Homo sapiens: one gene and its partners. The protein of the gene in region 1 interacts with the protein of each later gene in a biochemical or structural test. Each region holds a gene or a part of one and is shown in the gene's direction. Other genes may lie near its edges. The genes, in order: GRIP2, FAT3, SLC22A3, PBK, RAB9A, KCTD3 and SLC2A3.

The links.
Region 2: the proteins of GRIP2 (region 1) and FAT3 interact in a test that uses a peptide from one of them, tested with the Homo sapiens proteins (one large-scale study listed by IntAct).
Region 3: the proteins of GRIP2 (region 1) and SLC22A3 interact in a test that uses a peptide from one of them, tested with the Homo sapiens proteins (one large-scale study listed by IntAct).
Region 4: the proteins of GRIP2 (region 1) and PBK interact in a test that uses a peptide from one of them, tested with the Homo sapiens proteins (one large-scale study listed by IntAct).
Region 5: the proteins of GRIP2 (region 1) and RAB9A interact in a test that uses a peptide from one of them, tested with the Homo sapiens proteins (one large-scale study listed by IntAct).
Region 6: the proteins of GRIP2 (region 1) and KCTD3 interact in a test that uses a peptide from one of them, tested with the Homo sapiens proteins (one large-scale study listed by IntAct).
Region 7: the proteins of GRIP2 (region 1) and SLC2A3 interact in a test that uses a peptide from one of them, tested with the Homo sapiens proteins (one large-scale study listed by IntAct).

The regions. Positions count from the first base shown.
Region 1 is NC_000003.12:14,512,673-14,516,822, reverse strand, and holds part of GRIP2 (glutamate receptor-interacting protein 2), read left to right. Parts: intron 1-2,344; coding exon 2,345-2,531; intron 2,532-3,012; coding exon 3,013-3,158; intron 3,159-3,965; coding exon 3,966-4,046; exon of another isoform or gene 4,047-4,150.
Region 2 is NC_000011.10:92,227,450-92,231,599, forward strand, and holds part of FAT3 (protocadherin Fat 3 isoform 1 precursor), read left to right. Parts: intron 1-4,150.
Region 3 is NC_000006.12:160,438,343-160,442,492, forward strand, and holds part of SLC22A3 (solute carrier family 22 member 3), read left to right. Parts: intron 1-4,150.
Region 4 is NC_000008.11:27,808,943-27,811,939, reverse strand, and holds the end of PBK (lymphokine-activated killer T-cell-originated protein kinase), read left to right. Parts: exon of another isoform or gene 1-772; coding exon of another isoform or gene 773-805; coding exon 806-982; exon of another isoform or gene 983-1,438; coding exon 1,439-1,635; 3' UTR 1,636-2,316; downstream 2,317-2,997. UniProt on the Homo sapiens protein: Phosphorylates MAP kinase p38. Seems to be active only in mitosis. May also play a role in the activation of lymphoid cells.
Region 5 is NC_000023.11:13,695,410-13,699,559, forward strand, and holds part of RAB9A (ras-related protein Rab-9A), read left to right. Parts: intron 1-4,150. UniProt on the Homo sapiens protein: The small GTPases Rab are key regulators of intracellular membrane trafficking, from the formation of transport vesicles to their fusion with membranes.
Region 6 is NC_000001.11:215,569,872-215,574,021, forward strand, and holds part of KCTD3 (BTB/POZ domain-containing protein KCTD3), read left to right. Parts: intron 1-3,914; coding exon 3,915-3,968; intron 3,969-4,150. UniProt on the Homo sapiens protein: Accessory subunit of potassium/sodium hyperpolarization-activated cyclic nucleotide-gated channel 3 (HCN3) up-regulating its cell-surface expression and current density without affecting its voltage dependence and kinetics.
Region 7 is NC_000012.12:7,932,902-7,937,728, reverse strand, and holds the start of SLC2A3 (solute carrier family 2, facilitated glucose transporter member 3), read left to right. Parts: upstream 1-1,541; 5' UTR 1,542-1,694; coding exon 1,695-1,709; intron 1,710-3,826; coding exon 3,827-3,919; intron 3,920-4,581; coding exon 4,582-4,742; intron 4,743-4,827. UniProt on the Homo sapiens protein: Facilitative glucose transporter. Can also mediate the uptake of various other monosaccharides across the cell membrane. Mediates the uptake of glucose, 2-deoxyglucose, galactose, mannose, xylose and fucose, and probably also dehydroascorbate.

The DNA.
Region 1 (4,150 bases):
TATTATGAAAAATTCCTAGGATTTGGTGATAACGTCCTTGAGGAAAGGAAGTCTTTTCAGATGTGCATGAAGTTTTCACATTTTTTGCCATTCAGTCCTGATTCATTCATGGATAAAGCCTCAGTGCTGCGTTACTATATCCTTACCACCTCTCTGCCATTTGTTAATTTCCCCTAAGACAAAGACATGGCCTGAGACTCTAGCTGTCCAGAATGTAATAATTTCCAGTCTTACTTCTCTGCTTATTTATTGTTCAAAATTGCCCTTTTGAAATAAAGATATTTACATGTTAAGAAAAGTAAATCAATAGAAGACAAAAGTAGTGAATGATAAGGCAGGAGCCCTGTGGAAGTGGCAAAACACAATAATGCCTAAAATTTTGAAACCCTTCTTGGGAACAGTCTTTCCTTTGTTGATGCAGAAAGGGTTCTCAGCCTCCTGCCACATGAGCTGCAGAGGCCTCCAGGAAGGATAGAAGATCAAACTGGGCCATTTGAGATAGAACCAGGTGAAAGAAGAGAGGAGTACAGGTCACCTGGTGTCTGAAAAAAGCTAAATATGGTTCTACACTCCCTGGCAGCCAAAGGGAAATGGGAAACAGATTTCAGTCAGATGAGAGAGAAAATATATCTCTACTAACCACCTTTCCTGGCCACCAAAGTGGGGAATATGTAGATGAAAAGATGCAGAAATGCTGTTCGTAGGTGGGGGATGTGGAGACTGGAGGCTCTTGCGACTCCTCTGCCTGTCTCCTTCCTGGGATGTGTAACTAAGAAAGTACTATCATTATTGCTGTTGATAGTAATTTATTAATTAATTATAATTAATTAATTATGGGGCATAGTACTGAATGTACATACTATGGGGACATAGTAGTGAAAAGAAACAAATAGGCCAGGCATGGTGGCTCACGCCTGTAATCCCCACACTTTGGGAGGCCGAGGTGGGCAGATCACTTGAGGCCAGGAGTTCGAGACCAGCCTGACCAACATGGCGAAACTCCATCTCTACCAAAAATACAACAAATTAGCCTTGTATGGTGGCACACGCCTGTAATCCTAGCTACTCTGGAGGTGGGAAAATCGCTTGAACCCGGGAGGCGGAGGTTGCAGTGAGCCGAGGTGGCGCTTCTGCACTCCACCCTGGGCGACACAGTGAGACTTTGTCTCAAAATAAATAAATAAATACATATAAAAACACAATATACCTAAAAACATAACATATTACACATTTTGTAATGTATAATATACAATATAATTTAATAATATAATATGACACAATAATATAATTAGTAATGAAATACCAAATAAATTTTGTTTGATAAATAATAAATGACTTTCAGGATTCATATTAATGATGCAAATATATTTCATATATGGAATGTAAAACAATATTTATTAAATAACCTTATGTATCAAATAGTTAAACATAGAGTTGCCATATCACCCAGCAATTCCACTCCTAGGTATATGCCCAAGAGAAGTGAAAACATGTGTCATCTCCACCTAAAAACTTATACACAAATGTTCATAGTAGCATTATTCACTGTAGCCAAATAGTGGAAGGAACGCAGTATCCACCAATGGATGAATAGATAAACAAAATGTGGTGTATCCATACAATGGAATATTATTCAGCCACAAAAAGGAATGCAATTCTGACACCTGCAAAATGTGGATGAACTTGAAAACATTATGCCAAGTGAAAGCAGCCTGTCACAAAGGCCACATGGTGCATGATTCTGTTTATATAAAGTGCCCAGAACAGGCAAATGCAGAGATGAAAGTAGATTCGCGGTTGCCTAGGGCTGAGGGACATAGGAAGATCTTTGGGGATGGCTGAAGGGAACAGGGTTTCTTCTGGAGGTGATGAAATGTTCTCAAATGCATCGTGGTGATGTTTGCATAATTGTGAATACACTAAAAACCACTGAATTGTACACATTAAATAGGTGACTACTGTGGTATGTAAATTATATCTCAATAAACCTCTTACCGAAAAGCAGAGTGACATAATATAGTAGATACTACAGTAGATCACAGCACAATAATACAATAAAATGACACTGCCCCCCAGAACCTGCTTTACAGCATGACAGTCAATCCCAGCCACTGTCTTCCCTAGTCCTTGCCACACCCCACGAGGTGGGAATCAACGATCCCATTGTTCAGATGAGGAAGCCAAGGCTCAGAGTGAGCTGTGATCTGTCTGGTCCCAGACTGAGTCAGGGCTCCCACTTCCTTGCACTCTGGCTCCAGTGCCTAGGGCCCCGGGATGGGCAGGCCCTGGCAGGAAGACCTCCGTGGGGCGGCTCACCTGAATGCTGGGCCCACCTGTCCTACAGTGTCGCTAGCCTCCAGCACGGTGGGGCCGGGCGGGCAGATTGTGCACACGGAGACCACGGAGGTCGTGCTCTGTGGAGACCCCCTCAGCGGCTTTGGCCTCCAGCTCCAGGGCGGCATCTTCGCCACCGAGACCCTGTCCTCCCCACCCCTCGTGTGCTTCATCGAGCCTGACAGTCCGGCTGAGAGGTGAGCCTCCTGCCCCCTCCCTACTGAGCCTGCCACTCTCTGAGAGAAACTGAGTCACAGCACCAAGCCCTAGCTTCACAAGCGCATCTCACTTAACCATTGCATCAGCCCCAGCACCAGCCCCATTTTACAGATGAGGAAACCGAGGCTCAGAGAAGCTGACTCACTTGCCCAGGATTACACAGCTCACCCATGGAATCCCAGGGCTTGAACCCCTGTCTGCCTGAAGGCAGAGTCCTCTGTATACACAACTTGTAAGGCCCATGCCATCATCCCCATTGGACAGACAGGGAAACTGAGGTCCAGCAAGGTCCAGCCCTTAGCCAGATTCCTGAGGATACACAGGTGGGCCAGGGCAGAGCTGAGAGTCACCCCAGACCAGGAGGTGTGACCCAGGTTCAGTCCTGCCCTGCATGGCGTTCTTGTCTCCCAATGGACCTGTCACGGAGCCTCTTCTCTCTGCCGGGCCCCCTGGGTTCAGGTGTGGGCTGCTGCAGGTGGGGGACCGTGTCCTGTCCATCAATGGCATTGCCACCGAGGACGGGACTATGGAGGAAGCCAACCAGCTCCTGCGGGACGCCGCACTGGCCCACAAGGTCGTGCTGGAGGTGGAGTTCGATGTGGCGGGTGAGTGAGTGGCCCAAGCTTCCTCCTCATATTTCAGGGCCCTGCACCCCTCCTCTCTTTATCCTGCCTCGCCTGTGCAAACGCTCCACCCCATCCCCCTCTGTGCCCAGTGCCCTTCTCCCAGGGGCTTTGCAGCTTATAGTGGGAAGGGAAGCCTTGGCACGGGAGGGAGAAGTTTCCACACCAGGAGACTTTTGCAGAGGGGCAGGACCAAGTGGGGATGGGGTTGGGGAGCTGAAAATACTCCAAGCTCCTTCTCAGCATGGGTTAGGCAAAGAACCTCGAACAACAGTTTGGGTCAGAATTCTGCTTCTGTGACCTCAACACAGTGTGGCTTTGGACAGGACACTCCCTCCACTGTTTCCCCATCCGTAAATAGTTGATAACGATCTTTTCACTATAGGGGCGGTACTTGGGTTAGGTGAGGCATATGCCCAAGAGAAATGAAAACATGAAAATACCCAGCCACGGCCTGGCACATAGTAGGTGCTCAGGAAATATGTGCTAGATTCACACTGGGTTGTTAGGCTGTGGGGAGCTCCCTTCCCGCCCGCCACACTAGCCGACAGCCAAGAGGCCTGGTTCCAGCCCCGACTCTGGTCTGACTAGAGCAGGTCAGTTGTTTTGAGCAAATCTGTCAGCTCACTCTGCCTCAGTTTCCTCCTCTGTTGAGAGGAAGCAGGGGGATGAGATTAGAACTGTGACTTTCGGGGTCACTCCCAGCACAGCCAGAATGGGCATGGGGCTGGGGTTCGCTGAGGCTCCTCCTCTGGGTCCTCACGTCGGTTTATGTCCATCTACCCCCAGAGTCCGTCATCCCAAGCAGTGGCACCTTCCACGTGAAGCTGCCCAAGAAGCGCAGCGTGGAGCTGGGCATCACCATCAGCTGTGAGTCTCCTCCCGCTGCTGTTTGCCCCTGGGAGCGAGCTCAACTGCTGGGGAAAAAGAGCTTGCCAAGCTCAGACCAGCATTTCCATGGCGTGACACCCTGC
Region 2 (4,150 bases), on another chromosome or scaffold:
CAAACTCAGGTGGTGGAAAGGGGAAGCCCGCCATCTAGGAATTGAGGACCGAGGTGCCCACATCTCAGTATCGATCAAACAGAGCCCAGATTTCTTCTCCACCAGCAGACACTGAACTTCTCTTCACATTTACTGAATGCTTGAATGATGTTCTGGTGTGACGTGGAGATTTGAATCTGAGAAGGAAAGGAAGGGAGGAGGGGATGGAGGAGAGAAGAGAGAAGAGATTTGAGAGACTGAGATTCTTCAGAATCCTAGAAATTGCACAAAGCCAACTGCTTCTGCTTTTTTTCTTTCTTCTTCTTTTTTTTTTTTTTCTTTATTCCTAAATTGGAGCAATTGAACAGTGAGAGAATAAGGAACAGCCAAGGAAACCAGGGCTCTAAGAGACAAAGACAAAAAAAAAGCATAATAACTTTAGCACTTTGATGTGCTTCTTATTTAATAGGGTTGGAGTGGGGGAAGTTTTTTTTATTTTTTTTTTAACATTTTACAAGGAGAAAAGTTGTCTCTTAGAATTAAACCGAATGTTGATATTCAATCATGAATCTCAGTTGTTGCCTTTTTGGAACTTGAACAATGAGTGATGCTGGGGCCAGTTTCTGTGCACAGTGCACTGGGATGAGAAAGTTCCCAGAACTGTCCAGTTATAATGTCTTCATATCATCTGAATCACACAGAGAACTCCACATGAAAGGCAGCTGGCTCAGAGATCAGAAATCAGTCAGCTGCTGGGCTGGCTCCATCTCTTGTGGCTGCAGGATTTTCACAGCCAGGGTTTGTTGACCAGCGACTGGCTCTCAAGCCTTTTAGAAATCTTTCTTTCAAATTTTATTTATTCTGGTCTCTGGCGGAGTCATTTTGGGGATTTTTTTAATAGGACCCAGTCTGTCTGTTAACTAGCAATTACAGTTGTGCTGAGCTACTCAAAAATGAAATGAGTAGCAATAAACAGTGGATACCCACTGACCTGTATGCTATACGGTTATTTTGCTAGCCCACAGCCTTTGTAAAGCTATGGCTCTTCAGGCTGCTCACAGAAGAACATTTTGATGTGTCAGGTTATGTTATCATCCCTGCTTTCTTCTTCATACGATCCTGAATGACCTTAGCTAATCTGGCTGATGAATTATGTCAAATAGAAAGAAGTAGGCAATTACCAGGCAGGAGAGGGTATTTAGTCATTACCAGCAGGTCTGAGGAGTGCTCCTGGTGGCTGTTGCGTTGTTATGCTATATTAATAGCTCACAAAGCATAAAGGACTATTGTGGCTTTATTTTACCAGTTGTGGCATTGGGGTATGGCATTCCTTCATAGCCCACATCTGTCCAGTTGCCTGGTGGGTTGGCTTTTTCCTCTAGGGCAAGAAGGAGAAAGATAGTAATGAGGATATTTGATTTTTTTTTCCATTGTGGGGTCATCCCCAGGTTTTTCTTTTTTTTCCTTCTGCAGGAGCCTTGAGTAGGGAATCATCTGATGGGAGCAGGTGGGCCTGTCCATTTGAATTGATTTCCTTTGATTGCTGAAGAAGGACTATTGATGAACCACTTCTTTGCTGATTGTGGCAAACATTAGAATTGGAATGGAAATTTAAAAGAAAGGGATCTGACAGACTTAGAGTGAAGGATTTGTGTTCTGCCCAATTCCTTCCTAGAGTTAGCAGAGCCTCTGATTTCTACAGATATGCATGGTCTTAAAAATATTAAAGGAAGCACAACTCCTGTGTATGCAGTTTTACTTATTGGTGAAATTTTCTGCAATGCTTTTTTGATCTCTAACTGTTGAATATGTCATTTTCATCATCTTTCTACCCAAATTGTGAGGAGTGGGTCTTTGTTTTTTAATATATCCTGACCTCTTGAGGATCACCACAGTGTGACAACTTTCTCTGGGAAGACTCAGAGAGTAAATATCTTTTCTGTGTTTTGGTCGATTTAATTCTACAGGCTTCTCAAACTTACTGAGTTTTCTGTCAATTGCAGGGTATCTACTCCTTTAATAAGCTTTATTCCTTTCCTTGTTTTCTTTTTTTGTTTTTTCGTGTTTTTTTTTTTTTTGTTTTTTGTTTTTTTTTACATTGCCTCCCTTTCTCCAAATTTCTAAGAATAATTTTCAGGAAAGACTGCCTTTCCTTGAAAAAGAAATTCAGCTTAATGACACAGACTGCATTTATTGAGAACATATTTGACACTTGTCTAGTGGCTTCAAGCCAGTTTCTGGTCTACCAAAATAGGCTATCAGTTACATGTAATAGTGACAAATGACCCATTCTAGCAGTTCTGAATTGGAATGGCATTTTCAGGTTAGTCTTAATTTTAGCATATTCCAGGACTTAGATTTTTTTTCTTTTTTTTTTTTTTTTTCTGCTAAGTGGAAGGGATGAAAATTTGAGAATGGATTAACTGGCATGATGATAGAAAATAGAAAACAGATTTCAGAACTTAATCAATTAAACTCTTCACATAAACAAAATATTACTTCCTTCACCAGATAGATATATATGAATGTGGAGAGCCTAGAGGAGGTGTGAGGAGGGCCACAGCATTGTCCTTCCTTGAACAATGCATTATTGAAGGTGTTGCCTACCGTGGGCGGAAAAGTCATACAGAGGACCCTGAGAGGAGTCCTTGAGCAGTTGTTAGTATTTCAACGTTCTGCTCTTCCAGGGTTCCAAAACTGTGAATTATAGACTCTTTAATAAAGGAAAGTTGTTTCTTTAACTTTTGCCTTTGTACATCTGAAATATATCCCTTTTTAAAATTCTGTAAAGTCACATGGAATTTAAAATAATTTTTTGTCTTTAAAAAATGTCTTGCTTTCTCCTCTATTTTCCCTATTTTATTTTTGTTATTTATTTATTTAGAAACAGAGTCTCGCTCCATTGCCCAGGCTGGAGTGCAGTGGCGTGTTCTTGGCTCACTGCAACCTCCGCCTCCTGGGTTCAAGTGATTCTCATGCCTCAGTCTCCCGAGTAACTGGGATTACAGGCGCACACCACCATGCCCTCTTAATTTTTATATTTTTAGTAGACAGGGTGTTTCACCATGTTGGCCAGGCTGGTCTCGAACTCCTGGCCTCAAGTGATCCACCCACCTCGGCCTCCCAAAGTGCTCGGATTAGAGGCATGAGCCACCGTCCTCAGCCCTGTTATTTATTTTTTAAAAAAATTATTTTAAAGTTCTTTTCAGCGATATTTACTGAATCTACCTCTTTCACAAGACAGTGGGCAAGATTCAAAGAATAGTAAAATATATCCATTGCTTCTGCTTCGTGCTGTTTATTGAGAAAATGAGAGATGCCTGTGTGTGTACACTAGAAGTCACATCTAAAAATGTTTATTAATTGACAAAAGAATGTCTATGAACAGGAGCCTCAAGGAGGAGGGAGAGATTAATGTGAGGTGGAGTAAACTTTTAAGAGGAGTGTAAGTTATTAAAGTGAATATAATTCCATTTAATAATTCTTACTACAGCCCTAATGTATGCAAGGCACTATGAAATAAATTAATTCCTTCATTTGTCAGGGGGCAGTGCAGAGCTCCTTTTTGGAAGAACGTATTCATGGGGCAGCCCAAATGGGCTGTCGGAATGTTAGTTAATATTTTGAGAAGACTTCAGAATTTATTCATGTCCTTTCTCCACTATCCCCTTGTGGTCTCCCACCCCCCAATTTCAAAGGTAACTTTTAGGATTTTTGAATGTGTCTGGGAGCCTGCATGCAGGTGCACATGGTGTATTCTTAGTCCTCTGTTTTCCTATGTTTGAGACTCAGTTATGAATCTCAAGGTTAACTTTGTCACAGAACACCTCAGAGTGTTCTGTCCTTTAGGTATTCATCATTTAGATCTGTTGCTTGGTTTTTTACCTTAAAAAAATTTGTAAAAAATGGCTTACAAAGTAACATTAGCTTCCAGAATGTGAGTGAAAAGGCAGACTTTTACCTTGGACGTTCTCTATGACTTGATCCTACTTGTACTTTTCAGAGCAGTTGCAAATAATATTTCAGTTAATTCTTTCTTTCTTTTCTTTTTTGAGATGTTGGAGATAAGCCCAGCTGTTGAATGAGGCACAGTTATGAAAGGTTAAGTGGAAGTTTAATTGTAACTTCAGGACTTCAACTAAATTAAATTCCAAACAATCTGAAAAAAATT
Region 3 (4,150 bases), on another chromosome or scaffold:
GGCAAAGTGGGGATTACAGAGAAAGCTGGATTCTCCAGGCATCCTTTGTGTCTGCACAAAAAAGGCTGTCTTTCTTTGAGAATCCTCTGAGGACCAGCCAAGAAATGGACAATATAGTGGGAGTCAGAACAGTCAGACATTTACAGATGAGTTTATTAATTAAATGAAGGTTTATGAATTCTTAAAACACGAGGTAGGCCCTATTTGAATAAAATTACAGGAATGCCAATATTCGGAACACACACACACACACATACACACACACACACACACACACACACAATGTACAAGTCCCCTGACATGTTGGAATGTTTGATGATGAACAGCAACCACCTATTTACATTTCTCTTGTTTTCCTTGAGTGCATTCGCTTCCCAGGGCTGCTGTAATAAGTACCACAAACTCACCGGCTTGAAACAACAGACATTTATGCTCTCAGGGGTGTGGAGGCTGGGAGTCTAGAATCAAGGCATCCAAGGGTGCTTATGTCCAGAGGTTCTGGGGAAGGGTCTCTTCATGCCTCTCTCTGGCAATCCTTGCAGCTCCTTGGTGTCACTCCTATCTCTGCCTCCATATTCACAGGACATTCTCTTCTCTGCTTGTGTCAGTGTCACCTTGACTAATTACATCTGCAAAGACCTTATTTCCAAATGTAGTAGCCTTGAGGTTCCAGGTAGACATGAATTTTGGGAGACACTGTTCAACCCACTACATGGAATTAACATATTATAAGAGTTGGAGGATCTGTACAATAGCTATCTCTTAATACGTATCTATTTAGTATCGACTAATTGCCAGCCACTGAACTAGGAGGGGAATGGAGAGGTGAACAAAATAGACATAATTCCTGCCCTCAAAATTGTATAATTTAAGAAGAGTGAAAAATCGCAAACATTGGAGACGTTACTGTTCTATTTTACTTTGGTACTTTGGATATAACATACAACTGTAGCTCCCTGAGATGAAGTCTTCTGTTCTCATCGTATGTGGACTAGGAATGAATGAAATATTCATTGTATATGAAATTAGAAATGCAGCGAGAAAGATGCATGCTTCGGTGTGTCCCCTCATTTCATGATATATATATATACTTTACTCTATAAGATTTTCTCTGGTCCTAGATTGATTGGGATGACTTTAATGTTTGTTGCATTCAGAATGACCCCAGAAAGCATTCAAGGCTGTGTGTCCAAATCAAGACAGAAGTAACTAGCCGGATAGTCATATAACTATTTTGTAGAGAATTCTTTCATATATTGGAAAATATAACACCAAGAACAGACTGTTCTCCCTTGTCTAACCAGTTTTATTTTATAGATATAATTTCCTGATTGAAGCTTTAGAATTGTTCTCAGCAAGACTGAAAATGAATTGCTCTTATTCTAGACACATTTTATTTTTACCTTCTGCAGACTTGGCTGCTTTTATAGTCATATGTCAGTCATGACTGACTGGCAAGAATACATTTCAAATCCCTAAACTGAGTTCCAAATATTAACAGACGATCCTCCCTTGAGTCCTTCCAATTTAAAGACCCATTGGACTTGATTCCAGCCACTGGTTAATTAGCACGAGAAAGGCTTTTCTGCTCAGCCATTCCTGACGTCAGTAGTAGGTCGCCAGCCCCTGGGGAGAATACAGATGAGCTTTTGGAGAAACCAGCTCTAAAATAGTCTCACAGCAAACACTTTAATCAGCTTTCCCTCCACTCGACCCAACTTTTCATGGTCTAAAGAATGGAATTCTGGAAGAAGAAATAGTAGTTCTGGTTGTATTCTCATCTCAGACTCACTGCTTCTAGTCCAAATTTCTTAACACTCATTAATGTCTGGAAAATAAAGACCTTTCTTTATCCATACCTGTCTGCCATCTTTAATTTGAGTTTATTTAGGATGACCACAAACCTAGCAGTTTGGATAAGTCGTCTTCTTGAACTGGAAAACTTGTCTTCCACTTTTATTTTTCTTTAATTGAAAAGTGAGTTCATGTATCTTAATTTAGACATTTCTACTAGAATTTCTCACTAAACTTTATTTCAGAACTCAGAGTAGATGATCCATTCAGAGGACATATAAAGTTTTGTTTAAGTCCTGCATCCTTTCTTCAGGAATTGAGGTATTATTCCCAATCATCTCTAGTAGCTTGACCAAATCCACATTCAGAAGAAAACATTTTCTTTGTTCTCATGTAATTCCATGGAAGACAATTTTAGTTTCAGTACTCATTTTTAAATTGCCCTGTGGTTTTTGTCATTGCTACCAAAAGATGTCTATGGCCACCTCAAAATGAATTTAGCTTATTACTGGAATCAAGAATTTCTTTGTGTGTATATATTTATTCATACTTCCTACAGTTTTCTTTTCACTCTTTAGTTAATGAACCATGCAATGCCTTAGAAACTTTTCTTTGGTTACACATTTCAACAAAATCTCTGTTCCAGTATAGTTTGATACTGGACTCTACTGCTTGGAAAAGAGTTGGGAGTCTTTCAGATTAAGGTCAATGTTCCGGACAGACCACATCTCCACAAATGGGGCAACTTGGCATTTTCTGAATGTTTTACTGAATTGACTGGCTATTTATCTGAGTTAACCACATATGTTTATCATGGTGGAGTGTGTGTGTGTGTTTTAATTTGGTCTCTGGCTTTTGTTTGGATTTTTCCATGAAACACCTTGCCTCGGTTATAAACCCAAATTGCCCTTGAATTTGTCGGTGGGACTCAATTTTAGAGCAATCTTGATTTAGTGAAAAGAAACATACAATGGAAGAACCCAACCTGGATAGTGAAGCTGTTTCCTAGGTAGCAGGCAGCCTTCACTGCAGCCCGGGAGTGGCAGGAGATGGTCCCATCGGGCTGGGACCCAGGGAATCTGAGTCTCTGCTCCCACTTTCCCCTTCCAGTACCACATGCTCATTGAAAGATGGAGTGGAATGCATTACCTAGTCTCCACTCCCCCCTTTTCTTGGTCTTCATAAAGAAGCAAAGCCTAAATAACACATGTTGACAAACCTTCTGCTCCAGAGCAGACAGTGGCCCAGCACATCAGCACAACCCTGGCCTCCTCACTGCCTGATATAACCGTTAACGTGACAGCTACAAGGGTTCTCATGTGGGAAAAACATCAAGTGCACCAGGATGTCCTTGGCCAGTTTGCAGTCAAAATATGTAAACTTCAGACTCCCAGAAATGGTTTGGATTCTTGAGCCATCTTTTCCTTACACCTGTGCTCCTGGGCAATTGTTTTATTTAATGAATTTTAGCTTTTTTTTTTTTTTTTGACTTGGCTATTCTCTAGAGAGAACACACAGAAGTCTACTGGGCTTGATTCTCTTCTTTCATCCTCCTCATTCATTTCTACTAAAAAATTATATATTCAGGAAGGTTCAATAATTCCCCTAGGAAACAGGAGGACTATTTAGTGCTAAATGAACATATGTGTTGGATATAAAGGGAAAATGAAAGGCACATGAACACTGGACATGCTTCGTTTTGCTTTGGAGAGCAGATATGGTCTTGTTCATGCAGACATATGTCCTCAATACCAAATCCCCTAGGAAAGGATGACATCAATTGCACAACTTCTAGGAAAGCTAGAGCAGTGACTTTTTAGAGTAAAAATGGTTAACTCCTCTGCCCTTAAAACATAAAAGAAAGAAAATATTTAATATAGAATGTTTGGCATTTCCCACTAGTTAGTAGGGAGGAAAGGAAAATTTCTTCATACAACCAGAGCAGTCCTAAAACAGTTCATTTTAAAATGGACGAACCAATTAGCATTGATGAATGTGGCTCCTTCTGGATGGTTTATTGAAGGAAGTAGTACAATGGGGGATGAAGAAGACAATGAGTGACATTTGCCTTAGTGGTAACACACAGAATAGATGTCCCCTTCCAAAGATCCTGGTCCTCAAAGCTTGCTCCACTCTAGAAACCAAGGTCAGCTCACGTGAGGAACTCCCCAGGTGTGCTGGGAACGGCTATTCCTTGTGTCACCACCGCAAGGTATGCACAGAAAGGACAGCTGGGCACCAGCTGTGGGAACGTGGTGGCTCAAAGGCATGACTGGAAACTACCACCTGGACAAAAAGCCAGTGTGCTTTGGCTCTCTAGGAGGTCATTGCCTGGAACAATGTTCCAATGTAGTGG
Region 4 (2,997 bases), on another chromosome or scaffold:
CAGTATATAATTGAAAATGGAATTGTTTAAAATCTATTTACAAGTACCAAAACCCAAAATATTTCGGAATAAATAACCAAAAAAGTCTAAAACCTCTGTAATGAATACTATAAAGCATCACTGAGAAAATTCAGTAAGATATAACTAAGTGGAGAAATATATGACTGCGGTTTGGAAGACTCAATACTATTAAGATGTTAATGCTTACTAAATTGATCCAGAGATTTAGTCCAATCCTAATGAGAATTTTAGCTGGCTTTTTCATTGAAATTGACAAGTTGACTCAAGTTTAAATGGAAATGTGAGTGGACCTATTTCTTTCTTGGGCTTTAAAAAAGAGCCTATGTGTGATTGGTCCCTTTCCCTTTTCCTTGACATAGCAATCATGGAAGCATAGAAATGGTACTTCTCTCAGCCTAATATTGTTCACAAAATGAAGAAATTCAGGTCTAGAAGTGATCTGCTCAAGGTCACGCAGCTTGCACACACATGTCTTTGAACCAACCCAAGCAAGGCAGTCTGGCTCCAGAGTCTGTAATCTCAACATCCACATTCTATATTCCTACTAATTTGTAAGAGAATTGCTGTTTCTCTACATACCTGCCAACTGACCAGCTTCTTGAATATTTACCAACCTGAAAGGTAGAAAGTAATCCTTATTGAGGTTGAGTGTATTTTTACATTTTCTGGCTACACTGATTAACCTGTGAACTACTTGTTCAAATCGTTCGCCTGTTTCCCTTTGGGTTGCTTGCCTTTTCGTGATTTGTAGCTCCTGCCTTCATAACCATCTTGCTTGTTTCAGTGACTGACCCTGAGGCTTGTTACATTGGCACAGAGCCATGGAAACCCAAAGAAGCTGTGGAGGAGAATGGTGTTATTACTGACAAGGCAGACATATTTGCCTTTGGCCTTACTTTGTGGGAAATGATGACTTTATCGATTCCACACATTAATCTTTCAAATGATGATGATGATGAAGGTATGAATACAATTTCTAACATAAATCCCAATCTCTTCATTTCACACTAAAGATTATATAATTTTATCTTTCTAAGATATGTATTAGTACTGATGACTGATTTGGTACCACCAAGGTTTAATCTCACACAAATGAGACATAGATTGAGAATAGGGAGAAAAATTGAGGCTATCCAGAGAAGCAAAACATTATCTTAAAAACTCCCCTTTCCTGAGAAAATGATTGATTGGAAAACTATCACAGGAAGGGTAAAAGTAGGGGTCGATAACCTATAAATCCAAGACTAAAGCAAATCTACTTGATGGCAGGACAATTGAAGACATTTCCATTCTGTCTGTGGCAGAATGGAAAGCATACTGGACCATAAATTCTTGTTTCAGGAGAAGGGTGAGCTATTAAACTTTTCCATGACATAAAGTGATTTTGTTTATTGTTTCAATCTCTAACTCCTTCAAGATAAAACTTTTGATGAAAGTGATTTTGATGATGAAGCATACTATGCAGCGTTGGGAACTAGGCCACCTATTAATATGGAAGAACTGGATGAATCATACCAGAAAGTAATTGAACTCTTCTCTGTATGCACTAATGAAGACCCTAAAGATCGTCCTTCTGCTGCACACATTGTTGAAGCTCTGGAAACAGATGTCTAGTGATCATCTCAGCTGAAGTGTGGCTTGCGTAAATAACTGTTTATTCCAAAATATTTACATAGTTACTATCAGTAGTTATTAGACTCTAAAATTGGCATATTTGAGGACCATAGTTTCTTGTTAACATATGGATAACTATTTCTAATATGAAATATGCTTATATTGGCTATAAGCACTTGGAATTGTACTGGGTTTTCTGTAAAGTTTTAGAAACTAGCTACATAAGTACTTTGATACTGCTCATGCTGACTTAAAACACTAGCAGTAAAACGCTGTAAACTGTAACATTAAATTGAATGACCATTACTTTTATTAATGATCTTTCTTAAATATTCTATATTTTAATGGATCTACTGACATTAGCACTTTGTACAGTACAAAATAAAGTCTACATTTGTTTAAAACACTGAACCTTTTGCTGATGTGTTTATCAAATGATAACTGGAAGCTGAGGAGAATATGCCTCAAAAAGAGTAGCTCCTTGGATACTTCAGACTCTGGTTACAGATTGTCTTGATCTCTTGGATCTCCTCAGATCTTTGGTTTTTGCTTTAATTTATTAAATGTATTTTCCATACTGAGTTTAAAATTTATTAATTTGTACCTTAAGCATTTCCCAGCTGTGTAAAAACAATAAAACTCAAATAGGATGATAAAGAATAAAGGACACTTTGGGTACCAGAAGGTGTCTCAGCATTATTTTATACTTCATTGATTTGAGTGTTGTCATTAAACTTGAGTAAATGTGAGGTTTCTTTCCCTCTCTTGGCCTTATTTTGCTAATCTATAAAGTGTTTTGGATCAGTAGTTTCTGTAAGCCACAGTCCCCTGGGAATTTTCCAAATTACTGAATTGCCAATGTAGGTGGTATACCTACATTTGGGTGTAGACAGAATTTTAAAAATTACCGACACAGGGCGTTCTCAGAAACATTAGGAACAACTGCACTCTGAACTTTAAAAATGCCTAGAAATCACTGAAGGCCTTTTGGTATAAGATTGTACCAAGCAATAGGACACAACATTAATTTGCATATATTCCATCAAAATAATGTGACAAGTAAATTGGAAGTTGTCTTAATTTGTAGAAAAACGTATGTATAATTTTGCATCCTGATACTCAATAGGGTCTCTTATCCTCACTCTGACATGTGTCACTCTTCTTTGCCAAGCCAACAGAGCAGCTTCTCCAGGGCATTCTTTTCCTAGCAGGAATAGCAGTTCCTGCTTTAAGACTTAAAGCAGGAACTGGATCTTTCTTGAATTGGCTCTTTAATACATAAGCCATTGCTTTTCATTGAGAAATTTATTTCCACTTCCTACAGTTGAGATATCTAATAGGAATAAACTAATACCAAGGACA
Region 5 (4,150 bases), on another chromosome or scaffold:
TTTATTGATCTATAAAACATGGATGATAGTGTCCAACTTGCAGGTAATTTTAAGGTGCTATATGCCAGGTACCTAGTAGATATTCAGTTAATAGTGGCTGCTAATATAATTACAGCCATAGCATTTATTATTTGAGCAAGCAAGGCAATAGCAATAGGTAGTGCGAAAAGTGGACATATTTCATGTGTGGCTGAATGAAGTGCGTAAGAGAAAAGAAAGAGATTTTCGAAATGGAGAAAATAATTAGCTCAGTTTTAGATATGTTGAATTTGAACTACCATCAGGGTACCAGATGAACATACTATACAAGGGGTTGCAAATTCTTGTCTGGCTCAGACATGCGGATGTAGACTTTAGGAATCACTGGTTTTTATAGCCCAGGGAGATACCATCTGGAAACAGGTAAGGGTTTCAGTCTCGTGAAATAGCTTCATGAAGAGCTTGTCAGGAAAGGGAGCTGTCTATGTTGAAGAAAGCTAAGGGGCCAAGGAGGAGAGAAAGCAGAACCTATTATCAGAGTGGTTTTATGGACAATTAGGAAACATTTTCAAGAGGATTACTGCCAGGCTGTTTGGACCTGATAGAAGCAGTAATGGGTGGTAAGTCCTGGCTCAGACTTGAAGGTCTCCCCTGTGCCTCTAGCTAGATGTGTGATCCTGTGTAAGACACTTTCCCAGTTAGACCTGTTTCCTTATTTGTTTTTAAAAAACACTTGAGGCCAGGCACGGTGGCTCACACCTGTAATCCTAGCACTTTGGGAGGCCAAGGAGGGAGGCTTGCTTGAGCCCAGGAGTTCAAGACCAGCCTGGGCAAGATGGTGAAACCTTGTCATTACAAAAAAAAAAAAAAAATTAAAAAAAAAATTAGCCAGTCTTGGTGGTATGCACCTGTAGTCCCAGCTACTCTGGAGGCTGAAATGGGAGGATCACTTGAGCCCGGGAGTTTGAGGCTGCAGTGAGCTATGATCATGCCACTGCCCTCCAGCCTGGGTGGTAGAGAAAGACTCTGTCTTTTAAAAAAAGAAAAAAGACTTGGGTACCCTTCCAAGATTTTAGTTCATGCACATTCAGACAGATGGCTACACCTGAGAGAATTCACTATATACTAGCTGGGCCTCAGGTGGAGATGCTGGTCAAACTTGCAGGTGTTTTCTAGAAACATACACAATGAAGTCCTGAGAGAAGAACTTTTCCCTGTATTCACCTTAGGGTTGTATGTGCCGTAGGGCATTCAGATGAGGACTGAGAAAAAGCCATTGGATTGGCCATTAGGAGGTCTTTGGTGACTTTTGCTGACAATCAGGGGGAAAGGATGGGGTGGGAGCCCTGGTGTCCTATAAACTGAGCAGAGAGTTAATCAGGTTTGCAGGCACATTGAGAAATGGGTAGTGATGGGCAGAGTGAGGTTGGGCTTGGAAAGCTTTTTGTGAGAAAAGTCAGTTTCAACACTTCGATAGGGGCAGACCTGGGGGGATCATTGACAAAGTGACAGTTACATTGGATAAACTGAACTTGATGAAGAGCTGCCTGCAGTGTTGAGCTGGTGACAACTTCCCTGCAGAGTGGTATTTGGGAGCCTCTAGTCTAGTCGAGTCCTATATACCGGACATAGCTGCCCCTCTTTAAATATATCTTCTTAGGAAATCCTCACTCCTTGTAATTAACTTCTCTAACAGTCGAGAAGTTTCCTTTTGCTGTGGCTCCATGCCTTGTGGAGCCCCTCACTCAGTGAGTTTGTATAGTTCCCCAACCCCTAGCTTTGTCTGCTGTAAATTAAAGACATTTGGTTTCTTATCGAACTGGAAGGGAGGCCTCAGAACCAATGTTTCTTTAGGTGATAGCAGAACGTTGCAGATCATTTTTGATTTGTGTTTTGCTGCTTTAATATATTTTTCTGACATATATGTTCAAATTCATTCCTTTCATAATTTGTTTTTCTTCCTGAAATATCTACCTTTAATTCCCCATGTTCTCATCTTGTGACTTTTATCTATGTCTTTGCATTTTAATTCTGTCTTCCAAAGTGCACTCTATTGTCAAAAAGTATTGTAAGTACCTTTTACAGGTAAGTGTCATCGCAGGTAGATTTATGCTTGGTTCTTAAAACTTAAGCAAAACAAAAAAAAATTATTCTCACTTCTCAGGACTAGCAGTTTCCCATGAGTAAGGCTGTTCACTGAACTATCACAGTTTATGGTCAAAGTGTGATATTCATAAAAGTCTCATGGGTGAGGGAGAAAAAGAGGAAATTCTGCTAAAGACAGAAACTCTTGAAGGGTGTTATGAGCTACAGAAATGGATCACACATAACATACAAATGATGCAGGCATGTAGCAATCAGTTCTTGGTGTCCAAACTCCTTAAGATCTGATGAAACATTTTTTGTTCTTTCCAGAAAAAAAGCGCAAGCACACAAGCTTCCACCAATGCTCTCATCCTTATTTCACATGTGATTCTAGGGAGTGTATTTTCTCCCTGAAGCTCATTTCATGGACTCCCAATTAACCACACTCTAGGCCTGCACTGTCCAACACAGTTCCCACTAGCCTCATGTAGCAATTTAAACTAGTTAAAATTAAATGAAAAATTCAGTTCTTCAGTTAGACCAGCTACTTTCCAGTGCTCAGTAGCCACATGTGATTAGTGGCTACCATATTGGACAGTGCAGATTATAGAACATTGTCGTCATTGCAGAAGGGTCTGTTGGATTTTGCTGCACTATATAGTTTCATGATGGTTTAAGATTTAGTTCCTTAACTAAGTCTTCTTTTTCTTTTTTTTCTTTTTTTTTTTTTTTTTTTTTTTGGCCCTTCTCACTTCCTCCTTTCCCACTCCCCCCACCACTGTTAGTGATTAGTTAACATACCTACAGAGGTGCCTTGTTTTAAGAAAAATGTTAACATATTTCTTAAAAGTTAAGTTAGCTGATTCAGCTTCAAAAAAAGTTACTTAATTGAAATAAGTTCTTTCAATAGGGGAGGTGCTCTGACATAGCGATAGTATGGTTTGATAATACAGTTTTTCTCCTCTAGCTGCCTCCTGTTCTTGAGGTAATGCTCAGTGATTAACTAGATAGGACTAGATAATTTATTTCACCTTGGCAGGTCTTGCCTCCAAGTTGGCCTATTCCTATGGTATTTCCTTTTCTTTCTTTTGCTTCTTCCTGCACACTAAGTATGGTATTTTCTGACAGTATTTTTCTTAATTCTTTATTTATTTTTCTTGGTAATTTCTTGCTGTAGAGCTGGTACCCATTAGACATAATGACTTTCCTTGACTTGCTTCTTGCTCATAAATTTCTGTAAGACAATCAGGAAGTTTTTAGAAACAAACAGTGGAACCAATTAGGCTGTTAAGTGAGACACGCCTAAATTAAGCTATGAGGAAATAAATACAGCTCCAGCAAAAATAGAAATAATTTTCAGATTATCCATGCTTTTGTTTCCCTGGTTTTCTTTGAACCTCATTTCCTCAAGCTATGAAGTGAAATGAAGTGGTAAGTACACCTCTAAGTAGGACATTCAGGGTGAATCCAAAGGAACTTGTGAATTTGACCAAAAAAAAAAAAAAAATCTGTTCCTAAATTTAAACCAGGAGTGATAAATTCATTTTAAGTTTTTGGAGGGGTTACAGAGTATGTGTTTTAAAATCTCAAGTTTTGAGAAGGCAGTTTACAAATGATGCCTGCTCTCCCTTTGGCAGCTTATTAAGGAATGTAGTCGTTTTTCAGCATTTGCCAGCTCCCTGTCGCAGTCAGTCAATAGTACTTATTTTAAAGTGGGATTCTCATTGGGATTGCAAGTAAGAATCAATGTTTTTGTTCCTACCCACACATTTTAATAGACCTCAAAAATAGAATGCGGGGAGAACTGATAGAGAAACAAAGAATTTTAGGTACAGAAAGCACAAATAGAATAATAATAGAATAACAAGAATAAAAGAGGAAGTAATATACTCTTCGTTCTCAATGTAGCATTTATTTGCACCTCACCAAATGTAGAGCATTGTACGAGAAGTGGCAGAACAAAAAAGGGACAAGTGAATGGATGCAATTAGGTGTTGTGTGTCCCTCCCAGGGAGTTGACATTGTAATTAGGAAACAGACACATACACAACTGAAGGTGATTAGAGCATAAGTAAATGAGAGCTGT
Region 6 (4,150 bases), on another chromosome or scaffold:
GAAACATTAAAAAACTTCAGAAAATTGTTAAGATAAAATGGCTTATAAAATAAGTAGTAATGGTATGGCCCGTAGAAAACAACATCCGACTCCATATTCTAAGAATATTTTCTAGATTTGCTTTGAATCCTACACTCGTGCAGCATTTTAGAGCTAGATGAGATCTAGAAGTCACCTGTATCTTGTACAAAACACAGTGTAACATAGTCACTTAAGCCACTGTAAGAGAAAAATCCTGATATGATTGCCACTGAAGTTCAGGAACTGCTGTGGCATAGAATTGAAGTTCTGAAGTGATAGAGTAAAACTCAAAAGGAGAGTTTGTTGGGAGCAGAGAAGCATATGCTATCGGTAAGGTCTTTTTTTTTTTTTCCCTCAGGAGAATAGACATGAAAATGGATATACTCAAAGGAATTATAGAAATGACTAATTTTTATGGTTTAATACTTTGTGGGTGATTCAGAAAGTAGAGTAGATGAAGTTTCATTTAGAATTGTTAGTATTCGTTATTTACAAAAAGTAATGAAGTGAATTCACTATGACTGAATTTATGATTAATTCTGTTATGGGCAAGTGTGATTTTGGGCCTCATGCAAGAGGGCTGGGACTAGCCATTGAGGACTCCTGGACAAAGAGCTTTTGAGTCAGGTATATGTTTCCAATTCCCAGGCTTTATCTCTAACTAGCCTAGCAACCTTGGACAAATATTTTGATACTTAGTCTATTAAAATGTAAAGTGACAGACAGTAGTACCAATCTTATCAGATTGTTATAGGAATTTGAAGTAATAAATGTGAAATGCAAGGGTTAGTGGCATTATCAGTACTTACAGTGCAGAATAAATAACTAGTTAGATTGCTACCAAGTTAATTTAGTAGGAGGCAAGTTGCATGAAGTATAACTGTGGGTATGCAAATTTCTTTAGTCCTTTGCTGAAACCAGATTGTACATGACTCTGTTCTTGGGACACTATGGGTATGGGATAAAAAACAAATCAAAACAGAAAAGGCTTTCAAATGATTATGCTCATCATGTGTAATTTTAAGTGTGTTAGTTTTCATGAAGTTATATTCGAGACTGGTTTTGGGGCCAGAAGTTTAAAAAAAAATTGGTGGGGATGAGGGTCTAATTCCTTTGCCCAGAAATTCCAGGTTACTAACCTTTCCCCAAAATGCTGATTAAAATTGAAACTGATAATATGATTTTAAGCAGACCTTTGTGATTTTCTAAGTAGCACATAATTTTAATTATTTGGAATACAATTGGTGAATAAGTGGTGAATATAAAAGATTGCAAGTTATAAGCTGTCCTCATTTGGAATGAATTTGATGGCCTCCAAAACAGTGAATCTGCAATGTATGAATCCTTGGATCCTTCAATTTACCATTGAGTGGATTTGCTTTGATTTTGGACCAAGTCAGTTTTCTGTGACTGGGGTAATCTGTGTATTTTTTATTTTTCTTAAGAGTCTATTAAGAAACGCATTTAGGAGCATTTGCAGTGTTTTCTTAAAGTGACTCATTTGTTAATCAGATAAATGGGCGTAGGAACTGCTTATAAACACCTAGACTGTCCATAACCTGTGAAATTAGTTAGTAGTCAACTTCTATGTGTTCCCTAAAGTACCCCTTACTGTAGTTTACATTTAAATGTCTTTAATAAATGAATTGTTTTACTGTCTTTCCTTCAGTTAGCCAATGAAAGAATACTTTTCCTTACAAATTGTAAAGTTGTATGTGGGAAGAAGTGGAGATAAACTTTTTTTTTTTTTTTTTCCGAGACGGAGTCTCGCTTTGTCGCCCATGCTGGAGTGCAGTGGCGCGATCTCAGCTCACTGCCAGCTCCACCTCCTGAGTTCACGCCATTGTCCTGCCTCAGCCTCCTGAGTAAGCTGGGACTACAGGTGCCCGCCACCACGCCTGGCTAATTTTTCGTAGTTTTAGTAGAGACGGGGTTTCACCGTGTTAGCCAGGATGGTCTCCATCTGCTGACCTCGTGATCTGCCCGCCTCGGCCTCCCAAAGTGCTGGGATTACAGGCGTGAGCCACCGCGCCTAGCCGAGATAAACTTTTAATTGTGATTGGAAAGCATGTTTTGATAATGATAGAAAATTTATTTTGGAGACTAAGGCACTTTTTATGGAACAGTGCATACACGGCTTCTGCTGTTACTGACACTGAGACTGATACTGCTAAATGATTTAAGTGGGCAGTTTAGTGACATCTGTGTGTCAACACCAGTGTATTCTGAAAGTGCTCTGTTGTAACCATAAAATGCCTGCAGATCGTACAGAAGAATCAAGTCTCCGTTTTGTACAGAACATTTAACTGAGTTTTAGAGTGTGATTCTGTTTATCACACATAAGTTTCAATAAACATTTACTGGGTGTGTGCTAGGTGCTAAGAACAATGCTTTTAGGTGGTCCTCTCTGGCTTTAAGAAAAAACAACATCTACTTTTTTAATACAAAATCCATTTCTGAAACTGAGTTTGAAAAGTGAATTTACAGATAATCCATTTATCAAGATATGTAAAATATTATGAGCCATTGTTGCCTCAGGTGCCTGGATGGACTTGCAAAGTTGAGAGATCTGTGAGACTTCTGACACTACTCTGTATAAGCCTTGGTAGTCACAGTCACCCTGGCCTGCAATCCAGTGCTATTTAATAGCCCACTTAGAAGATGGGAATGGGAAGTAGGATGTATTTTGAGGTTTGTTATGCTGCAGTGAGCATAATAAAAAAAAGTAAGCAACTTCCACGTTTTTGATAATTCCAGGCTGCTAATTTAGGTAATGGCAGACAATAGATGGATGATACAGTGTATACATGCACAGCCTGGGAAACATCCCTTAGCCATTTTGGCTGGGGTTTGGCCTGTGTTTCCTGGTGATAGTGCATGGTAACTAGTGCCACTATTCAGTCACCTTGTTTAGTTTAAGTATGAAAGGTAAAAATAAATTTAGGGATTTCATATAATGCCAGAAAATAAATGTGGAGTGAAAGTAGAGGTTTGCTAGGCTGGGTGAGATAACATTGTAGTTCAAGGTGATATCTTAAAATGAAAATACTCAGAGAAGGGCTGGACTGAACAAGTACTATATTGCTTTGTTTGCCATATCAGTTTACATAAATTATTGGTTTGTTGTCCCAGTCTATTATACTGTACTTTGGTAAAGATCCTCCCTTGGTAATATACAAGCTTGATCAAATGACAACCTCAGAACAGTGATGTATTTGGCTGAATGATTTTTGAATGAATGAAGTCAGCAGTTGCAGATAGCCCAAGACTGCCTATAAAGAAGGTGTTAAATGAGTAATTTACAGTGAAATTACTATGAGCTTAAAAAGAGATAATACAGGATTGGATATTTAGAAAAACTATTACAGGGAAGGTAAAACCTGAGTGGTATCAAGAAAGATGGACGGATCTTGAATTATTGGACATGAAGAGAGTGATCTAGCTGAATAAAGATACCAAAATGGTAGTAAGCATGAATTTTTTGGGGATATGAAGAAGTTTTGTCCTATTAGAGGGGAAAACCAGCATTTGTACTGGAGAGATGAGATGGAACCTGAAGGTAATTTTGAATGTTATACTGAGAAGTTGAGACTTGGTGTGATGGGCTAATTGTTGATTCTTCAGCAGAGATTAGCTTATTGGAAAGTAGTGTTTTAAGATGCATTATATGGCGGATAACAAGTTGTTTATTGTTATTGAGAGCTGCTTGTATAATCTTAACTCTGAATTGAAAGTAGCAACGTTTAAAAATATTAACTGTAATAAATATATTGGTACAGCTATAACTATAAAACATCTTGTAAATCATTAGCCAGTGTATTAAAACAAGTTAACTAATACTGAAATTTCAAATCATGTTCTCACTTATAATACCAGATGATTTTTAATTGCAGATTTAGTACCTCAAGACAAACTCTTATGTGGATTCCAGATTCTTTTTTTTCCAGGTATGTCTTATAATTCTTTAGTGTATATTTTAATACATTTATTTACCAAAATATAATAATGTTTGTCAGTTAAATTTTTTTTAATAAAAAAGGTTAACTCTTAAAATTATATATTTTTGAACTTGGAAGATAGATAACTTACTTTTAGTGGTCTTTAACATTTGGTAAAGAATTAGCACATT
Region 7 (4,827 bases), on another chromosome or scaffold:
TTTTTTTGAGACGGATTCTTGCTCTGTCGCCCAGGCTGGAGTGCAGTGGCGCTGTCTTGGCTCACTGCAAGCTCCGCCTGCCGCGTTCACGCCATTCTCCTGTCTCAGCCTCCCGAGTAGCTGGGACTGCAGGCGCCCGCCACCATGCCCGGCTAATTTTTTTTTTTTTTTTTTTTTTTTTTGTATTTTTAGTAGAGAATGGTTTCACCGTGTTAGCCAGGATGGTCTTGATCTCCTGACCTCGTGATCCGCCCACCTCGGCCTCCCAAAGTGCTGGGATTACAGGCGTGAGCCACCGCGCCCGGCCTTTTTTTCTATTATTCACTGAAGAATCACCAGCTTCTTGGAGAGTACCTGATACATAGCGTGTATTCGGCAAATACCTGCTTAATTGAATTCGGTATTTATTGCATTTCTAGATGCTATAAGCTTGAGACTAGCAGAAAGTGATGCAGAATTCAGAATGGGTGATATGGCAAATGCCTTATTAAATATAGGGCTCGGCGCGGTGGCTCACACTTGTAATCCCAGCACTTTGGGAGGCCAAGGCGGGCAGATCACAAGGTCAGGAGTTTGAGACCAGCCTGGCCAATATGGTGAAACCCCGTCTTTACTAAAAATACAAAAATTAGCGGGGCGTGGTGGCGGGCGCCTATAGTCCCAGCTACTCGGGAGGCTGAGGCAGGAGAATTGCTTGAACCCGGGAGGCGGAGGTTGCAGTGAGCCGAGATCGCACCACTGCACTCCAGCCTGGGCGACAGAGAGAGACTCCATATCAAAAAAAAAAAAAAAAAAAAAAAAAGGATATGGATTGTATTCCATAAACAGTTGAACCTCTTATTCCTACTGCCCTGATAGTTGGTCTGGCTCCTAGAAATTCAGATTTTCTTCCCTCCAGGTGAGATTATGCGAAGAAAGGAACACTGGCAAAATTATTTCCCTGATTTTCTTCTCTCAGGCTGTCTTTCCCTCCCCTTTAAGATTGTGTACTCCGTCTCAAAAAAAAAAGAAAAAAAAAAGATTGTAGACCCAGCCTATAAATTCATAGGATCAAGAATTCTTACTAACACTCTTTCTAACAACCTTAAATCTCTGATAGTAGCACCCACTTGACTTCGTTTTGTATGGATAGATTTATTCTAATCTCTCTGTAGATTGTTTTAATCCCAAGCAGATGCGAGAGCATAAAATAGTGTATTTGCCCTCCCTCCAGGCTTTTCTGGTAGTATTTTGTCTGTGAAACTAAGAGGCTCTAGCTGCTATTAGAAGAGGGAAGGAGTAAGGATGAGCTTTTGAAAAAAAAAAAAAAAAAAAAACCCAGGGTGGAGAGAGTGGAAGGATGTGGTTTTAAGAGAGGGGGGAGGGAGGGCGTTATTGTCTGTGGGGCGGGGGCGGGGGTAGTTCTGATAACACAGAATTCCGAGAGATCACAAGATTGCTTCAGGGGGGTGGGGTGGGGTGGGGTGGGGCTGGGGGCTTGTCGCCCTTTCAGGCTCCACCCTTTGCGGAGATTATAAATAGTCATGATCCCAGCGAGACCCAGAGATGCTGTAATGGTAAGACTTTGGATCCTTCCTGAGGACGTGGAGAAAACTTGCTGCTGAGAAGGACATTTTGAAGGTTTTGTTGGCTGAAAAAGCTGTTTCTGGAATCACCCCTAGATCTTTCTTGAAGACTTGAATTAGATTACAGCGATGGGGACACAGAAGGTAAGAATGATATAATTACTGGTTATTTTTGCTTGTTTGGGATACACTCAGAAAGGCAAATATTAATGGTAATCTCCTTGTTCTATTTTCTCCTAAGTCACCAAGCTATCTTAAGGCCTTTTCATTTCGTCTCTAGCCTGCACTGCTGCCGCTTCATCAGTTCTCTTTGAATGTCATACAGTTCTGTTCACCTTATCATAGGAAAGTCACCCGGAGAAGTTGTGTTTGCTTCTCAGGTTTATTTTAGGTAACCATATGCCACTGAGGACGAGATGGTTGAGTGTTTAGAGGATCGGGCTGCTTGGTTGTATGGATTACAAGTGTGGGTCTCAGAGCCAGTGTGAAGACTTCTCTGGAAGCATTAGACCTTGAAAAGGTCTGTGTTTGGAGGCACAGGCCAGGGTCTGGCCATCTGTTTGTCCTATAACATATGGGGTTCGTGGATGCTAAGGAGAAAGAATTCCAGTTGTCCTTCCTATTAGGGTTAAAATCGTGAGTGCAGGACATACTAAAATATTGAGTGTTGTATATGCATTATTTGCAGGGAGAAAGGCTTTTCTTTTTTTTCTGATTGAGTTTTACTCTTGTTGCCCAGGCTGGAGTGCAATGGAGCGACCGCAGCTCACCACAGCCTCCGCCTCCCGGGTTCAAGCGATTCTCCTGCCTCAGCCTCCTGAGTAGCTGAGATTACAGGCATGAACCACCGGGCCCGGCTAATTTTGTATTTTTAGTAGAGACGGGGTTTCTCTATGTTGGTCAGGCTGGTCTCGACTCCCGACCTCAGGCGATCCGCCGGCCTCGGCCTCCCAAGGTGCTGAGATTACAGGCATGAGCCACTGCGCGCAGCAAGAAAGGCATTTTTTACCAAGATAAATTTAACTAAAAATAAGGGGCCAGGTGTGGTGGGTCACACCTATAACCCCAGCATTTGGGAAACCAAGGCAGGAGGATCACATGAGGCCTGGAGTTTGAGACTAGCCTTGGGCAATATAGTGAGATCCCATCTCTACAAAGCAGAAAGAAAGAAAATGTAGGAAAATAAGAAAGGGATGGAAAATTATGAGACTAAAGAAGAAAAGGCTCTCAAAGATAGTGAATGATGAGAGGAGACAGAAGAGATTTTTACTAAACGGAAAAAGATTTAACAGAGCATTGCACTGGCAGGGCCCTCCGGGGTACCGATGCTTAGCTGGGACTGAGACATCTGGGAGGCTGCAGGCAAGGTCACTTCTCCTGCTGAAGCTCCCAGCCTGCTGCCTAATCTGCCCGACCTGAAAGGAAAGGAGTTTAAGATATGAAAGGTTGAAGGGATTTTGGGTGGTGGGGTGGGGGGGAATGGCGTAGAAGTTGGCCTCAGGTATAAAAATTGAGCTGCCCCAAGGTAGAAATGGAAAATGTCTCGCCCGGCTGAATTATTCCAGGCAAGGTGAAGATGACCGGTTCTCCCCACTAAGAAATGTCTCTTATATGTTGGGTTCGCCCTTATATGTTGGGTTCAGAGTAAGTACTTTCTTCCCCTGCGCGGGAGTTAGGGATAGCAGAACTGTATTTAATAAACGAAGACTGAAATGGGGCCAGGATGCAGTGAGTAGATCCAGTAGGTTACATGGTCCTGAGAGATAAGAGACTCAAAGAGCCACCCAGCAGTGAAGACACAAACTACCACCCCCTCCACCACCACCAGTGGGCTTCCGTGGAGTCTGGGGTACAGATCAGACTGCACTGTATTTGTTTCCAGAATGGTCAATTCTTAGTAATCCTACCCGAGACTGTCTTTTTCTCTGCCCTCCCAGTTCGTGAGTGGAATTCTATGCCTACATTTGCCTGATGCAAGTTTTTAAATATTTCCAAACTGACCAACCCAGTTTCTCTTAACTTCTTCCTTCCCCAATTTTCTTTCATTTTTACCAAGTTAACTTCACATTCTTATCTCCAGATAAGTTCTTTAGTATAATCTATTCCTTTGTCTTCCCCATTAATTACCTAAATCTCATTGGATGTTCTTTTCATACCACTCATAACTCAAATTCTCCTAATACAGCTCCATAATTAATAAGAAACAGTCATCAATCACAAGTTTTAAGGACTATTCTCTCCTCTGTCTTCCCTCCCTCCAGGTCACCCCAGCTCTGATATTTGCCATCACAGTTGCTACAATCGGCTCTTTCCAATTTGGCTACAACACTGGGGTCATCAATGCTCCTGAGAAGGTGAGTGCCAGGCCACAATAATTAGAATTTAGAATAGGGAAGTTATTCCTTTAAGTAGGGTTTCAGGAATTCAGAATTTAAGGCCAGGCATGGTGGCATCTGCCTGGAGTCCCAGCTACTCCTGAGGCTGAGGCTTAAAGATCACTTGAGTCCAGGAGTTAAACACCATCCTGAGCAACACAGTTAGTGAGGGTCCCTCCCCAAACTAGGGGATTTTAAGACAAACTTTGTATCTATCCTGTCCAAGACTGAAGATGGAGACAATATTGGTGGGGAAAATTAGTGGGGTCATCTAATCGAAGCACAAAGCTCACTTACTCCCGGAACGCTGGGCGGTGCTGTTCTTCCTCCCACTCTTTCACCTCATAGTGATGCACATCCTGTATTATCCCTTAGGGGTTAGTTACAAAGAAGCTGGGTTCCCTTAGCAGAGGGCTGGGGTAGACTGTGAACATCGGTGCTGCCACCTACTGGGATTTTCAGGACAAATAGAATTACTATTCCAGCGAGAGTTAACATAAATTCCAATACGTTATCTGCCCCTTCCATTCCTGTCTATTTATTCCCTTGATTCTCTAGGAAGGAAATGATCCCTAATGTTTGTCTTTTGTTCTCATCCAACTGTAACAGTCTGTTCTTCCACCAACCCTTTTATTTTGCAGATCATAAAGGAATTTATCAATAAAACTTTGACGGACAAGGGAAATGCCCCACCCTCTGAGGTGCTGCTCACGTCTCTCTGGTCCTTGTCTGTGGCCATATTTTCCGTCGGGGGTATGATCGGCTCCTTTTCCGTCGGACTCTTCGTCAACCGCTTTGGCAGGTATTGACTAGAAACTGGGCAAGGAAGTGGGCTCTACCAGCCACATTGAGGACAAGTGTGGAGAGTTAGGGCAGGGAGGTGATGA